Homo sapiens: one gene and its partner. The protein of the gene in region 1 interacts with the protein of each later gene in a pairwise test. Each region holds a gene or a part of one and is shown in the gene's direction. Other genes may lie near its edges.

What was found. The genes of interacting proteins can lie anywhere in the genome.
Region 2: the proteins of PHOSPHO1 (region 1) and RASSF8 interact in a two-hybrid assay, tested with the Homo sapiens proteins (one large-scale study listed by BioGRID and IntAct).

What each region holds. Positions count from the first base shown.
Region 1 is NC_000017.11:49,225,327-49,227,787, reverse strand, and holds part of PHOSPHO1 (phosphoethanolamine/phosphocholine phosphatase), read left to right. Parts: intron 1-1,029; 5' UTR 1,030-1,096; coding exon 1,097-1,141; intron 1,142-2,010; coding exon of another isoform or gene 2,011-2,132; intron 2,133-2,461. UniProt on the Homo sapiens protein: Phosphatase that has a high activity toward phosphoethanolamine (PEA) and phosphocholine (PCho). Involved in the generation of inorganic phosphate for bone mineralization.
Region 2 is NC_000012.12:25,961,682-25,965,181, forward strand, and holds part of RASSF8 (ras association domain-containing protein 8), read left to right. Parts: intron 1-3,500.

The sequences.
Region 1 (2,461 bases):
ATGTGTGGTCTGGTTGTTGTGAGGGAGGGAGTACCGCAAGATGGATATTGCTAGAGCCTGTACCCTGCTCCTGGGATGTCCCCGTCTCTGTCCTGGGGCGATTGCTTCTCCCTCCTGAATAGTCAGGGGAGAGTGTCACCTTGACAGAGGGGTTTACAGTGTCACCATTGTCACCACCAGAGGGCAGCAGCCAGCCAGACCTCTGCTTCTCTCAAGGTCTTGTCTCCTGGCTCTCTTTATCTTTCCAAATCTTGTCCCAGCTGCTTCTGGTCTCATTCAACCCCAGGAGCACAGGTGGGAGAGTAGAGAGGCACTGGAAGCTGTAGGTGGTGTCCTTTGCCACTGTCTTGGTGAAGTCCCCAAGAGGTTAAACCCAGTTCCCAAAGCCACACCAAAGTCTTGCCAAGATTTCAACCTGACTCTTCTGTGTGACTGCCGGACCCCTGAGAGCAACAGGGAGGCCATTCCCAGATCATCTGTGAGACCTGGCTGGGGGTCCCAGACCCCAGCTATGGTATAGTAAGCTTTGGTCAGCTCCTTCCTTTTTGAGGGCATGAGGAAGGCAAAGCTGCAGTCAAGCGTTCATGAAGCAGTCTATGCCCCATGTAAACAGCGTGGCTGGTTAGTTAACCTCTCTGAGCCCTTCTCATTGGCTGAATTCATGACTGATGAGTAGTGAGAGAATATGAGTGAAGGTGATTTGTAAACTATGATGTGTCAAACACATTTAAGGGACAATGATGATACTAGAGAAAAAACACTGGACTCAGGCTCAGATGTGGGTTTGAGATCTGTCTGCCATTTACAGTGGGTGACTTTTGGGAAAGTCAGTTAACTTCTCTGGGTCTCCAATACCATCTGAAACCTCTCTAGAGTTGTAGGCACTGGGCCTATTTGAGGGGTTGTTTTTGCTAAGACCCTGGGAATGCCTCCTGTAGCTCAGCAGAAGGACCAGGGCCAGGTGGGTATTCCTGGTGGAAGCAAAGTCAGCTGACTGGGCACCCTCAAATGAACTTTTGTGGTTGTCAGGAACGTGTGACGACGGCTGGAGGCCAACAGAGTCCCTACAGGTGGTGCTCACGGTAATGCACCGACAATGAGTGGCTGTTTTCCAGTTTCTGGCCTCCGCTGCCTATCTAGGGTAAGTGGGTCCCTCCAGGGGTCTCCTAGGATGAGGCCTCAGCCCCCAGTTTCCCATCACCTTTCCATAGGGCCTTGGGAGAGGCCCTATCCAGCCCGTTTTAGGTTTACCCTCACCTCTACTGGGGCTTCATTAATTCCTAGAAGCTTCCATCCCAGGTGTGGGGTCCTGATGCTTTATATCTGCAATTTGAAGGATCCTGGGCCACTGAAATGCCCACTGGATGTTGATGAGACCAGAGGGTGACTCTAGGGATGAGGTGGAAGGGACAGCTTGGTTAGGGAGGCAGATAGCCAATCGAAATCCCAGCTCCGAAATGAGGAGCTTGGGTTTCTGTTTCACAAGGTGTGCCAGGCCATAAGCACACCAGGAATATGAGAGAGGGGCTTAGGAAGAAACCAGAAAGAGAAACAATCCCATCTCAATTAACTGGGGTGGGAGCTGGGCGGGAGAAAAGCAGTGTGTGGGTATCTGGAAGCTGCATGTCACCTGCTCACTGCCCCTCTGCGCCTCTCACACACTGGCAGGCAAAGGTGATGGAAACTTGCTGCCAAGGGCTCTTGCTGCCTCCATTGCTTGCCTTTCCTTGTGCCCAGACATGTCCCCTCTTGTCCTCTGTCCTCTCCCATGCTGCCTACCACCCTCCCCTCCAACAAGAATCTGGCCCAAGGTCTCCGCTTCCTGGAACTCCCTTATCCCTACCCCTACTCTGTCTTCCTGTCCAGCAGTCTGTCTCCAAGATCCCCTAGAATGACCTCCTCTCAGCCCTCTCCTCCACACCCCCCAAGTCCCCACTACCTGGCCCCTCCCACTCCTCTGCCTTTTCAGCCACTGCTGCTCTCTTCTCTTCTCCCTTACCTGTCTCCCAGGTGTGTCATGGCCTGGTGCGGGAGGCTCTTACCTCCCCAAGCCCCACTGCTTCTCCTGCTGCCCGCTTGCTTCGGACTCTGGCAGAAACCCCACCTGCTGACACGTTCCTCCTGGGGAATTGGCAAGTGATTAGTGATGAGCTGTCAGCACAGGGCCCTAAAACTCCCCGAAGAAGCTGTGCCCCATCCCTAGACCCCTGTTCAGTGCCATTGGGCTAGAAGCAGCTCCCAGAGAGCCATAGATTCCCCATGGCCCAAAAGGAGAATGAGGAAACTGGTCCAGTTGGGTGGATGGGTGGTTGGTTTCCCTTGACTCTACCTCAGGGAATGAGGGAGGGGAGAGTTCCCACCACCCTTTCTTGATCCACACCAACAACAGGGGCCACTGGAAGTCTCCAAAACAGTCCAGTCCAGAAACCTCCCCAAAGTGGTGATCCTTGGAAGCTGCTCT
Region 2 (3,500 bases), on another chromosome or scaffold:
AGAACATCTAATATATATTAGATGTGCCTGGCACATTTCAGCCAATAAATGACAACATCTCAAACTCCTTCAGAATTGAGCTCTTGGTCACTCAAACTTTCAAACTGTTCCCCCTCCATTTTTCATCTCATCCATCCAAGGAGTAGCTCACTCCACTCTCTCTTTTCTTCTATCAGCCCTAGCAAACCAGTCCATCATAAAGTCCTGCTGTCCATTTTTATTGCAAAATCTCTTTCAAACCGGTCTGATTTTCAGTCCCCACTATTCTGCCATCCTAATGCAAGCCACTGTACTGTATTATCTTTTTCCTTGGTGCGGTGCCTCCTGCACACACTCTGCACCCCTTGCAGTCTGTTTTACTACCAGCAGCCTGAAAAAAAAAAGAAAAAGTATTTGCCGTCTTAAAGTTGTCAGGGCTCTCAGGAAACACATTTATTTATTTTTGGGATAAGATACCAAATCCTTGACATTACTTCAGGATCCTGCATGATTTGATCTCTACATCCACTTGCATCTCTTGCTGTCATCTTGGCCAGTTCTCCAGCAGACTAGCCTCAGGCCTGTGGCTCATGCTGTTGGTCTCCCTATTTTAGGATCATCTCCTTGAGTAACTTATCATCCTTGGGTGCTAGCTCAAATGTCCTTTCTCATAAAGGTCTTCTCTGACAAGCCCACCCTTATCGTCATGCGAATTAAATGTCCTTTATTTTCTCCCTCATAGCGTAATCACTTTTGCTTCTGAATATTTACCACAATTTATATATTATTTAATCACTTAGGGTCCTTTTCTTGCCCTTTAGGTTAATATGAAGTTGATAATACCTGGTTTAATCACCAGTGCCCAGTATATGTAGTAGGTGCTCAATAAATATGTTGATATAATGAGTAAGATCGTAATATCAGTTTGTATCTTTATCTTTTTTTTTTGAAATGGAGTCTTACTATGTTGCCCAGTTGGTCTTAAACTCCTGGCCTCAAGTGATCCTCCTGCCTCAGCCTCCTGAGTAGCTGGGACTACAGGTGTGTGCCACCATGCCTGGCTTCTGTATTTGTATCTTGATTGCCTTCTTTATCACTGTTAAATTTGCTTTTCATGATAGAAAAGCCAGACCCACACTTTTCTATATTCCTTCTTTGCTGGTTATATGTATAATATGAAACGGCCTTTGCAAATATCAGGTAAAAATGCATGTAGGTTCTGTGAAATATTCGTAGTAATAAATTGAGACACCTTTTAATTAGTGTTACCCTTGTGACTTTCTGTTGTACATAATCCTTTTTCTAAATACATCATTAAAATAATTATTTTTTTATCAGCATAAGCTTACTGAAAGGAAAAAAAATCTTACTGTGCCTTACTATTTTACAGAGCGTCACATGATAACACGTTAGTCAGCTGCTGTCGGCTGGTGGTGCCAGACATCAAAGGAAGATTGGGAAAACTTTAGTAGAAAAACAAGACCTAGAGTTCTAAGGATGCTCAGTGCTGTCCAGCTGTTGATGTGACTTGCATGGTAACCAGACATCACTGGACCATACACTTAAGAGAGAGGAGGAGTTTTTTTTAAAAAAAGTGGGAGCCACCTAGAAGTCTGGAAGTTCTTTTCTTCTCTCTCACTAAAGCATTCCTTGTTTTAGCCAAAAAAAAAAAAAAAAAAAAAAGTCTCATGACCTTCCAAGGCCAAGGAAGGCTTACAGCTTTGAGTATTTTTGTCATGTGGTTGCTCTTTACGAAATATTAGCTTGATGTCCTCTAACTCTGAAGTACTTATGTCTGTTATTGATGTTTGTAATCTCTACTTCTTACATAATTCTGCATTTTTCTCTTGACTTGTTTTTTAGGACTTTAGTATTCCTTAAAAATCATTTCCTCACACCCTTAGAGTGTAGTTCTAGTTCTTTCTAGTTTTGTATCTTATAGATCACTGAGTGTGTGGGGGCACTTTGGAGCTGATTCAAGTCCTTCAGAACGTACTCCTCTGCAGTCCACCTCGGGGGTTCCCAAACTGTGATCCTTTGAGTGGTCTGGACCCTGAGGTTTCCGTAGCCTGGGTGCTCTTGGGTTGGGAGAGCAAGGAGGATGAAAGCAGCATTTTTGAGCCCCTGTTGGGTGCTCTCGAAGAGGAGGAGTGAGTAGTTTATCTGGTCAGAATTGGAAAAGTGAAGCTTAGGCTTTCTTTCCATATATTTGCTTCACAAAAGAAAATTGTTCCTTTTGTTCCTACATTTCCCCACTCCTGATTTTCTAGTCAGGAAGGCATGAGAAGAGAGAGATGCCCCTGCAAGCCAGACCCTTACCCTGGTGCTTATTTAGACCTGATTTTAAAAATGTTGAGAGCAAGCCCTGAGAGGGGCACACCAGGTGATTTGCCTCGTGTAGGCCCTCTGTGCCTGCAGGACATTCGCATCACGAGTAGCTGCCACTGTGGAGGAGAGGAAAGTTATGGTTGGGAACCCTTGTTATTTTTTTTCCACCATGTATATATGTCCACTGGTTACTTGGGTGACCTTGAACAAGTTGCCTTGAGCTTTTTAACACCAATAATATTTATTACCCATTTATTTCACAGACTTGCTATAGGATTTAGAAAGCTATTCTTAGCAAGTGTTTTTTTTTTTTTTTAAATCACATTCAGATATATCACAAAATATTGCAGTGAACTGTAGGGCTGTCCAAATTTTATGTATGCAGCAAAATATTTTCTTACTCATTAGCATATGTTTTACTCTTTGTTTTAAAAAGAAATCAGATGTAAATGCAGGTTATAACAAGAGGAGAGCTGTGATGGTTTGCTACCAGGTTTTATGTAGGTAATATATTTTGTCACTGTTGTTATATTTGGTCACTGTTGTTAGCTATCATTGGCTCGTGAGTGCTAAATCATGTTTATCCTTATAGTAATTTTACTATTGGAAAATCGCTTAAGACTAAATTATTCTTCCAGATACAAGTATATATGTTTAAAAGAAATTGGGATTCTCTTTAATGGATAGATATTGGGCAGAAAGTAAGGTTTTACCCTTATTTTTGCTTAAAATATTTGAGTGGATTTATAATCGATGAAACTCTACTGTAAAAATACCAGTGAGAAATAGGGATGTTTTGTAATGTTGAAGGTAAAATTTGTTCATTTCTATGGGAAGTTCTAATACGTTAAATGTCAGAATATCTTATAGTAGTTTATTTGTGCTGTATTTTTTCTTTTTAGTGTATAATGACTTCCCTTATATTTCTTTTTTTAAACAGCTTTATTTAATTAATTAATTTATATATTTTTTGAGACGGAGTCTTGCTCTGTCGTCCAGGCTGGAGTGCAGTGGCACGATCTTGGCTCACTGCAAGCTCCGCCTCCCGGGTTCATGCCATTCTCCCGCCTCAGCCTCCTGAGTAGCTGGGACTACAGGTCCCCGCCACCACGCCCAGCTAATTTTTTACATTTTTATTAGAGACAGGATTTACCATGTTAGCCAGGATGGTCTTGATTTCCTGACCTCGTGAT